2 separate regions of the Homo sapiens genome follow, and region 1 is linked to region 2. The links come from fine-mapping of genetic effects on gene expression. A gene starts in region 2. The other region holds a variant in brackets. All regions are shown on one strand. Distances are from middle to middle. Region 1 overlaps RBPMS (RNA binding protein, mRNA processing factor). Region 2 holds the start of RBPMS (RNA binding protein, mRNA processing factor).

What was found.
Region 1: its variant is fine-mapped to the expression of RBPMS in nasal epithelium (TOPMed, PIP above 0.99).

The regions. Positions count from the first base shown.
Region 1 is chr8:30,472,129-30,477,509 of GRCh38, reverse strand. It overlaps RBPMS (RNA binding protein, mRNA processing factor), which reads right to left. Exons shown (of 9, transcript NM_001008710.3): 2 at 2,654-2,731. Among named protein-coding and RNA genes, the nearest start is that of RBPMS-AS1, 89 kb to the right of the region's middle. RefSeq lists a silencer at 1,550-1,741. The variant G/C (reference allele first, on the strand shown) is at 2,160.
Region 2 is chr8:30,382,562-30,387,942 of GRCh38, reverse strand. RBPMS (RNA binding protein, mRNA processing factor) reads right to left here and starts at 3,402. Exons shown (of 9, transcript NM_001008710.3): 1 at 2,785-3,402. The coding sequence starts at 2,850. It overlaps RBPMS-AS1 (RBPMS antisense RNA 1), which reads left to right and starts at 2,542. Exons shown (of 3, transcript NR_046205.1): 1 at 2,542-2,799; 2 at 4,246-4,399; 3 at 5,328-5,381. RefSeq lists enhancers at 2,273-2,944, 2,945-3,615.

The sequences.
Region 1 (5,381 bases), 90 kb before region 2:
AATAGCAATCTTTTTGTTTTCTTGGTCTAGATAAGAATAGGAGTTTTACAGAAATAGGCAAGGAAAGAGGGTAAATTTAATACAACAGGAAGGTCAGAGCCATGTATTGGTCATGTAGCTGCTATAAAATAACAACAATAAAACATTAAGAATATAGTTGGGGCTGGGTGCGGTGACTCACGCCTGTAATCCCAGCACTTTGGGAGGCCAAGGCGGGCGGATCATGAGGTCTGGAGATCGAGACCATCGACAAGTGGTGAAACCCCATCTCTACTAAAAATACAAAAAAATTAGCCGAGCATGGTGGTGGGTGCCTGTAGTCCCAGCTACTTGGGAGGCTGAGGCAGGAGAATGGTATGAACCCGGGAGGCAGAGCTTGCAGTGAGCCGATGGCGTCACTACACTCCAGCCTGGGAGACACAGCCAGACTCCGTCTCAAAAAAATATAGTTGGTAAAACTCCCTGACCACATTTTCAAAACTGCCAGAAATGGTTAAGCAGGCAATGATGTTGAATTTTGTTGAGTTACTTTGCTAACTTACTGAAGGAACCAGTTTTCATGTTGCTCTTCTGATGGGGACATGCAAAAATAATCCCTTCAGGTTTTTATTCCAGCTCATGCTCAAGGAAGACAGAAACACTCCCTCCCTCTTTCACTCCCTCTCTTCACCCCTCCCGGCTCCTCAAGATAAGGATAACAAAATGTGTTTATTTCTGAAAATAATCAATAGCTGGTGGCTTGCATTAACGGACGACACAGGGGAAAAACACACCACTTGACGTGATTGACCACTACACACATCAGCGCAGAGACAGATTTGCAGACTAGGGTCAGCCTCCAGGGACTTTAATTAAAAGAGGGTTGTCAGGAATGTACTAGGGTGCTGACTTTCTAGTCGGGGTTTCTGGGCAGGATGTTGAGATTGATTCATCCTTACATCTTCCCAGCAGAGAACTATGTTACCAATTAGCTACTATAAACATTTCACCTCAAAGGCCTTGAGCTCTTATGGCCAGAGAGGTCATGATTCACAGCTCTGCCTCTTCCTTTCTTCAAGGTGCTCTCTTCTGAAAAAACTAGAGGTTTAAACACCATGAAGGTCTTGAAGGCAAAGGACAACTGGATATTTCACTCAAGTAAAACACCACTGGTAGGGATATACTGTGTTCTCAAGTCACAAACAGAAAAGCAGTATAACATAATAGTTCAGAACAGAGAGGGCAGAGTCAGACTGCTTGGTTTGAATCTTGGCTCTGCCAATTTTTATGTGTGTAAACTTGAGCACAATTTATTCAGCTCCAAGTTTCATTTTCCTCATTTGAAAAAATGAGACTCACCCACTTGAAAGGATTGTGACAATACTTTAATAATTCATATAAAGGGCTTGCTGGTGAATGTCTTTCTCTCTATACACCCCAAAACATAACAGTATTTTATACACTAAGAAGATCAATTTGCGTTAAAAGTTTGCATTCTATAAAAAGGATAGAAAAATGGTCCTTTTTATAAAAGTACAACCCGGCAGAAGAAACTCAGGAAATTCTATAAAAGGTGGCACTCTCTCCATACCACCTTCTCTTCCTTTCCCACTTCCTCCCACCTGACCTGGCACCTGACCTCTGTTTCCCTGTGCCATCATCATTATTGTTGCATTAAAGCGATGGCTGTCAGGTGGACTTATGTCCCTTATGACATGGTGCCCTCTTGGCACATAAGCTAGACTGTTTTATCTTTGTTGGTTCTAACTGGCTGCCCCTGCATCCCTCCTTCCTCCTCCCCAACACTAGAGTTTTTAGTTGTCATATCCAATTCCGTCTTCCTAAGAAGCTGAATCCTATCCCTCAACCTGTCATGCCTCTATCACTGGGGACCTGCTTCAGTGAGAATGATCTTTAACCAGAAATCAAGACAGCCCATCACCTAATCATAAGTGTGGTCTCTGCCAGGCACTGCTGCTAACACATCCACACTGACCAACTTAAGACTTCCTGAGCACAGGCCCTTCCAGAGAAGGAACATATCCCTTCCAGGGCCCCGATTCGATCAGCTCCAGCTTTCTCCTATCCTCCAAAGGCCAACCTTCAAAAGGTTTCTTCTTGGCAGCAAGGCTATTTTGGCTTAGTTTCTACGAAGTGCTTGGTGTTTAATTTCCTATGAA[G/C]TTTTCAATCCTAGCAACATTAAGTATCTATCAAGTGATCTTATTTCCATAGGAAGGACAGGTAACTGCATTAAATATTTCAATAAACACCAGGAAATATTACCATCAACTTACACCTAGGTATCCTTTAAAATTTTGTTTTACTTTGTTTGAAAGTTTTGCCATGGAAAAAATAACGGTGGTTAGGTTCTTAACTCAGTTCATAAAAACCTATTTACATTTCCAAAGAACAGTATCAACAGTACTATTTCAAATAATAAGGTATGAAACTAGAAATAAATCTTCACTTACATTACTGCATTTGAAATATAAATATGTAATTATCCTAAGTGAGACTGTACATTAGAACTCAGTTGTTAAATCTCCTTTACTCATTAACCTTTTAAAAACATCTGTTTTCTTCTCAAATATTTCATTTCTTGCTTCAAAAAGCTCCCAGAAAGCATACAGACTTTTGTCTCATTTTATAATTTCTGAAAGATAAAAAAAGGTACCTTAAATGGTCTGAAAAGCAGATAGAGCTCCCGAGGTTTGATATCCAGAGGAAGGCCACTGACAAATAGGGTCCGGACCTGGAAAAATAAATTTAGGAAGTGATCAAGGGTGTGGACACTCCAGAGAGTTAACTCTCACCTGATATCTCAGAAACATATTATTCCAAATATTCCACAACTCATACTAAATTCATGCTCTTTCCATGATACAACGAATACTTCACTGTTAAGATGCCACTAAGCCAACACTTTTTTTTCCTTTTTAAATTTTAGGGGAGATGCAGCCTTCTGTGTAATCTTAAGGTACATCCCCTAAGCCAACACTTGAATATTTCTATGTGAATTATTCAGAGTGAATTACATCTAGTTGATTTAAATTTACAAGCTAACTTTTCCCAACTAGCCATTGCACACTTCTAAAAATGTGAAGGATGGGGGGAGGTTCCATATAATTTAAATATTAGCTTAAGAAAAAAATGACATGAGCACAGTAAATCTGCCACTCCTCTGCCCTAAATATATCGCCTATATAATGTGCTTCAAAAATAATATAAAAACAATTTGTTTCCTCCTGCTTGTTTTGTTGCTGCTTTCCTCATAGGCATTAATTACAATAACTTTAATAAATGTAAAAGTAAAGTTAAGCCCAATGCACCTAAATAGTAACCAAAATGCATTAACTCTTCATCTGTTCGGTTCCAAAACAGCAGGGCCAACCTCACTGACTATTGTTCCCATTGCATTTTTGTTGTTGTTGTTGTTTTTTAAATTTTAAGTACTGGGGTACATGTGCAGGATGTACAGGTTACAAAGGTAAACACATACCATGGTGGTTTGCTGCACAGATCAACCTATCACCTGGGTATTAAGCCCAGCAACCATTAGCTATTCTTCCTGATGCTCTTCCTCCCCTCAAGCCCCCGACAAGCCCAATGTGTGTTATTCCCCATCATGTGTCCCTGTGCCCTCATCCTTCAGCTCCCACTTGTGAGAACATGTGGTGTCTGGTTTTCTGTTCCTGTGTTAGTTTGCTGAGGATGACTTATAGTTCCACCCATGTCCCTGCAAAGGACATGACCTTGTTCCTTTTTGTGGCTGCATAGTATTCCATGGTGTATATGTACCACATTTTCTTTATTTAGTCTATCATTGATGGACATTTGGGTTGATTCCATGATTTTGCTATTGTGAATAGTGCTGCAATGAACATACACGTGCATGTATCTTCCTAACAGAATGACGTATATTCCTTTGGGTATATATCCAGTAATGGGATTGCTGGGTCAAATGGTAGTTCTGCTTCTAGATCTTTGAGGAATCGCCATACTGTCTTCCACCCACTGTGTTTAAGGCACAATCAACACATAGGCCACCATGTACAAGGTACCTGGCTACGGTGCCACTAATAAAAGTCATTCAAGACACATATGTAAATACATATAGTGCAAAGTGTAGGGTACACACTATGTGCTTAGTGTCTACTAAAACACAGAACACAGGGGAAACACCAGAGAAAGCATCTGAGTAAGAATCGAAAGGATGGGCATTTACCAAATAGAGCCAAAAGATGAGGTGGGATCCCTAAGAATCACAGGCAGAGAAAAGGATTCACCAAGGCAGTGAAGTAGGAGAAGAAGAAAACATTCTTGGGGAAGGGCAAGCCAAAACTAAACAAGAAGCTTAGGGTCAAACACACAAAACATCAAAAGCCACTGGCTCAGGAATTTGATCTTGATTCAATAGGCAAGGAGTAGCTACTGAATTATCATCATATTTTCTATTTGTTTTTCTCTACTCAAACACAGATGCAACATGATTGAAAATTCGATGCTCAATTGTTCAATTGTTAACCATGAATATATACATGAAAGATTTTTCCTCAGTGAAAGATGGGGAGAATATTAGACAGACAGACAGTCTGCTACCATGTCTGGCTAATTTTTTGTAAAGATGGGGTTTCACCATGTTGCCCAGGCTGATCTCAAACTCCTGAGCTCAAGAGATCCTCCCATCTCGGCCTCCCACAGTGCTGGGATTACAGGCATGAGCCACCTCGCCTGGCTTTTTCTAGATTCCTAACACTTTTCACTGTTTCCTGTTACACAGAAGTGCGAATCACCAAGCAAGGCCCTTTTATTGACCCAGCACAGTACACAGTAAAATGTCATGCCATTTGCATGTAAGTATGTTTGATAAACACTATAATGATGTAAATAGCCCCAGAATTCTGAATGCCTTATTTTATGATATATTTATAAACAGCTTTATTGAGGTTATGATTGATATATAATAAACTACACATCTTGAAATATGTGATGTTTTGACATATGTATAACCTAAGAAACATCACAACCAAGACAATCTATCACCACCATCACAACCAAGACAATCTATCACCACCAAAAGTTTATTCATGCCCCTTTAATCCTTCCTCCCACTCTGTCCCACCATTCTCCATCCCCAGGCAATCACTGCTCTGATCTCTTTATATTAGTATATATGTCTCAAACACTTACATATACAGAGGGAACCACAGAGTATGTACCCTTTTCATCTGGCTTCTTTCCCTTAGCATGAAGTGAAATTTACTTTGAGATTCATCTATGTTGTTGAATGTATCAACAGTCTATTCCTTTTTATTACTGAGAAGTATTCTGTAGTGTGGATACACCACAGTTTATCCATTCACATGTTGACATTTAGGTTATTCTAGTTTTGGCTATTACAA
Region 2 (5,381 bases):
AACTTCCAACCCTAAAAAGCTGCAAAAATACTCCTAGATCCTGAACTGTTCATTCTACACAATTAGAACCAAAGAGGCATTTCAGCACAATTATTTCAGGGTAAGCATTAGAAACTCTCAAAAGAAGCTAAAATACACTGATTGATAGAAGGAATTCGTTTCGAAACTAGAAACACAGAAAAAAACAAACTTGGGTTCTACAATGTGGAGAAAGCCCAAACCACCCTCATGATCTGTGAAATAAACTATTTTCCCTTAATGATGATTGGACTCATTTTTCCATGTCAGTTCAATGGCTACCAGAAATTACAACGAAACACATTTTTCCTCTCGTCATTACGTGTATATATCTATGTTGTATGTGTGTGTTCTGTTTACTGGAGTCCACCGCCAAGGTTTTTAAATGTGCTTAAGAGCAAGTTGCTGATACAATGGGTGGGCAGGGAAAGGGTCAGTGCAGTGGTTTTGTGTAATGCCGGGCACATTAATGGCACTCACCTAATACTCTATTTATTTTACCTGTGGCTTTCAGGGTTAGAAAGAAAAAAACAAAAAAGAGGTTAAGAGTTTTTCAAGAACAAAATATAAACCAAAAATAGGAAATTAAGGCAAAATTACCTGGATCATTCAGGCCACCTTAGTTTCTTTTCCTCAATTTCTGACATTATAAACCCCCCTCTCTTCACGGTCTTAACTGTTTTGTACACGACATCTCTCTTGGACAACTTGGGTTCTGAAATCTTCCTACGTGTCCCCTTACTTTTTACATAACAAGTGTTTTGCTAAAAAGACCGATACTTTCTAGAGCCACATGCCATTCCTACCTGAAAAGGAACGCTGTCAGATAACAGGACAAGTAAGAGGCAGCAACTGTACTGCAATGGCCCGCGATTATACAGCGATTATTATACACAACCTCACAAGGACGGAGGAGCGTCCAGGAACAGGGCAGGCAATCCCTTGGTCCTGGCAGCTGTTAAGAGGGGTCAAGCAGAAAAATGTGACTTTTCTATACTTAATTTTAATGTGGGTATGATTTTTAGGACATTGAACCTCTTTTGCTACCTACCAAAAGGAAAAAAAAAAGTTTTCTCAACTGGGTGAATAAAGAAAGATGGTTTCATATAATATTCTAACCCTGAGAAGCAAACAGATTGCACATCTAGCTGAAACAGAAAGATTTCTGAAGCGATGATTATCTTGATATGGTAAGTGAATTAGTTAAATATGGTAATTCCTAAAAAAGCACACTTGTCATTATTTTTAAATTTTTTTAAGTGGTAGGGAAAATAAATAGCAAAGCAGCCAGTAAAGTTCAAGAAAAAAAATCAGAACACACCATTCAACTCTCCATCGCTTTGAAAAAAGAAATGCCAGTAGCATTCCTACAATTGTAATTAGAAAACATGCAAGTAAACAACTCTTCAAATAGTCTTTTATAATAAAATAGAAAATGTCCTCGGGTGAAAAAGCAATTTTTGGCTGACTGCAATTCATTTAGGTTTTCACTACCATACAACTGGGTGACGAGTAAAATCTCCTATTTATTTTGCATTGTTTGGCATAGTCTCGCTCCTCTACCTTCTCCATCTAAATAGTTACCATTTTCCAAGTGGACAATGTGCAGAGAAGTTGTATGTATTAATGAATTCCTCTGCAATTTTGGTTTCACTATCAGAATTGAAGTTTGCACACAACATAGTGTCTCAACAATGATCTCAACATTCTAACGCTTTAGAATCCGTTTACCTTCTGTGTTCACCTATATCAGGATCCAATACCTGTGTGAATCTTTTCGGGTCATATTTAGACGTGCACTTTCCTGCATCTACACACACTCTCAAGTTCCTCTAGAATGTTTAAGAACTCAACTGTGTGGGATGTTAAGAAGTACGCCAGAAATAATTTCTTGGACTCCAGATAACGTACCTGCAAAAAGAGTCATTTGGTAGGATACCACAAATATCCTACTGAATTCTGAAACGTTTGTTCCTGAGTCCGACTCCCCTTCTGACCACATCTACTCAATTTTGTTTCCACCGAAGGAACGCTCCGCAGTCACAAAACTTTCATCATGATTACGGACGCACCACCTAAAATGCATGCTCAGAAGTCAAAGTCCTATGAAAATACCCTCGATGAGCATTTGGTGAATTGCTGCGTTTTTAACCCTCTTACTCTGCTCCCCTCAGCTGCACGGCCCCTAAAATCACAAGCGTTCACCGCCCAGGCTCGGGGTCTTTGACTCAGCAGAGAAGAATGTGGCTGATGAGTTATCTATTAATCCAAAAAACCTCGGCTAGAAAGATATTTCACCAAGAACTTTTAACACGGAAAGGGAGGGGGCAGGGAATAGAGGTATCTTTTAACGAGAACTTTCCCCCGAGTTTCTTCCTTAAACTGCTCCCCCCCCGACCCTGAATCCATACACAATTTCCAGCCCCGGCCCTAAGTCCTGACCCTCCGAGTCCCGATTATCTGAGGTCACCCAGGAGTCAGCTCTCGGTTCCACTTATAAATCCCGGGCAAACAAAGCTGAGCATTATACTTACAAAAGTCTCCGAAAAGTCCTTGGAGTTACGCAATTTGGGGCCCGCAGACGCGCGTGGACACAAAAACACACGCTCCCGAGATCCACCCTCCCCGGGCCACACTGTGGGGCTGCGTCCGGGGCACGGGCCATGCCTGAACCTTCTTCCACCGCCGCGCCCCGGGCCCGCGCCCCGCCGGCCGCCCGCACTGGGTCCCGCGTCGCCCCCGCCACCACACCGAGCCGCCCAGTACCTCCTCCTCCTGAAGGTTGGCCTCGCTCGGGGTGTTCTCCTTCTCGGCTTTGCCGCCGTTGTTCATCTTCCCGGTCCTTCCTCGCCGGGCCGGGCAGGGCTGGGGCGCGGGGCTGGGCGAGGGCGCGCTAGCCCACTGGAGCCTTCCCCGGGCGCCGGGGCTCCCTCGGGCGGGCGCCGCGGGCTGTGGGGCTGGAGCTGGAGCCGGGGCAGTGGCTGTCGGGCTCGGGTTGGGCTGGGGCTCCCGCGGCGAGTCTGCGACGGCGGCGGCGGGCGACTCAGGAAGTGCAAGGGAGAGACGGGGCAGGGCGCGGGCCGGGAGCGGGGCACCGAGACAATCGGGCCCCGGGAGGGCGACCTGGAGAGGGAGGGCGGGAGCCAGGGGAGGAAGGAAGAAGGAAGGAAGGAAGGAAGCAAAGGATGGGGCGAGGACGCGCGTCCCAGGAGTAAGCGCGGAGAGTTGGGGCTGGGGGCTGCAGCCGCTGGAAGGAGGGGACGGGGGTGCCTAGAGAGGAGGAGGAGGAGGAAGAGGAGGAGGAGGAGCGGGGCGGAGGAGCGCGGGCCGCGGCTGGGACGCTGGGACCCGAGAGCCGCTGAGTACGCGCTCCAGGCAGGCTCTGGGAAGTCCGGGATGGAAGCAGCTCCCTTTCTCTCGCCTTCCTCCCTCCCCTCTCCCCTCCCTCCTCTCCGCGCCTCTCCTCCTCCCTCCGCCCTCCCTGGACGTGGGCTGCCGGCTGCAGCCCGGAGGGACGGGGCGCGGGACGGAGCCCCCCGCGGGAGGAGGGGCCGGCGGCCGGATGGCGCGCGCCGGGGAGGGGCAGCGGGCCGCGGGCGGAAGCGGCGACCCCAGCCCCCGACTCAGCGGCTGGTCGGAGGGCGAGGGCCCGGGAGGCCGAGGGCAGGGAGGTCGGGTCCCGCCGTTCCCTTGGCCCCCGGGGGCCCCGGCGTCTGCGCGCCCCGGGACTTCGGGGACCCTGCCCCGCCGGGGCCTGGACCGGGACCTGGGATGTGTGCGACTTTTAGTTTGCCGGCTTTTACCGAGGGATTTGCACCCCTGGCCCTAAGCCCACCCTTCCCGAGCCAGACCCGGTTCTTCCTCTGCTGCTTGAATGACAGCATGAGAACTCGAGGGACACCGGGGACAGCCCACTCCGGGCCGGCTTTTTCAGGACAGGGCTTCAAACCCATCTCCAGCGCGGGTCCTGCGACGCGCCCGGAGCCTTCCCCGCTTCGCTTCCTGAGCGTCCCGCGGCCCCCCGACTCCTCTCCCAACTCTCACCAGACTGTTCTGGGATTGTTTACCTGGCCTCTCCCTCACCCTTCAGAAAGCTCCTTCCTGGAAGAAAAAAAAAAATCCTGCCCTATTTATCTTTTTAATCCCACGGCTATTTAAACGGGCTAAGGGGTATATAGCAGGCACTCAATAAATATTTGTTGGCAAAGTGAATATTCCTTATTGCAGGCAGAGCTGGGGGTCCGTACGGAGGAACTTCAGAGGCTGGAAGCACGCTTGAAAAAGAAAGGGGGCCTGGGCTTTGCACCAGCTTCAGGATTGCGTACTTGTTTCCTCATCCGTGAAATGGGAGCAGCTGAATGTGTCTCCTCGAGTTTTCGAGGTGATTATAGGTTGATAGAGCTATATACAGCACCCAGCATTTATTCTTGCTTCGTTTAGGTTTACAATACATGGAAGCTAACATTATTATTAAGAAAACTTCTATTTTTCCAGGGCCTTAGAAAGCGTTTCCAATACTCGATCATTTAAGCTTATGGTTTTTTGGTTTTTTTTTTTTTTAGAAAAATGAGGGTCTCACTTTGTTGCTCAGGCTGAGCTCGAGCTCCTGGCCTCAAGTGATCCTCCTGCTTTTGGCCTCCCAAACTGATGGGATTACAACGTGGAGCCACCGTGTTAAACTCTTAGATTTGACTGCTACAAAGGTATAAATGTGGAACTCCATATATCAGTGGGTTCTGCCCCACTTCTTCCTCCCAGGAATTCTCCATCCCAGCCTGCTGCTCCTGTCTTGCACCGGTAACAGTTTCCAACTACAGTATTTGCTTAACTGTTTCTCCCCACCCCCACCAGACATTCTTTATACTTGGTTTAAGTGCTGCTGGGGATAGGGCGGGGGTGGCTGTGGGAGTTGCAGATAAGGACCCTCCCTTTAGGGAGTTTAAAGTGGTATGGTGGCTCACACTTGGAATCTCAGCACTTAAGGAGATAGAGGAAAGAGGATTGCTTGAGCCCAGGAGTTCAAGACCTGCCTGGGCAACATAGTGAGACTCTGTTCTCCACAGAGGGGAAAAAAAGAAAAGACAAAAAAATAAAGTGGTATGGAGCCAAGATACTCTCAGAATCCTCTTTCCGATTATAGAAAGCAAGGAAAATATTTGCTTTAAGGGCATTATGAGGAGAAAAACAGTAGTGATACTTGGATTTACATATTGGATTTATCTTGGGGGTTTGGAGATTTTGAAACAGGAAGATTTCCATAAGGAAAACATGTTTTTTTAATTGCTGTCATAATGTGATTTCTCTCTAAGGGGAACAAACATGTATCCTGGATGAAAATAAACCAACTCTTGAAACTGCAACCC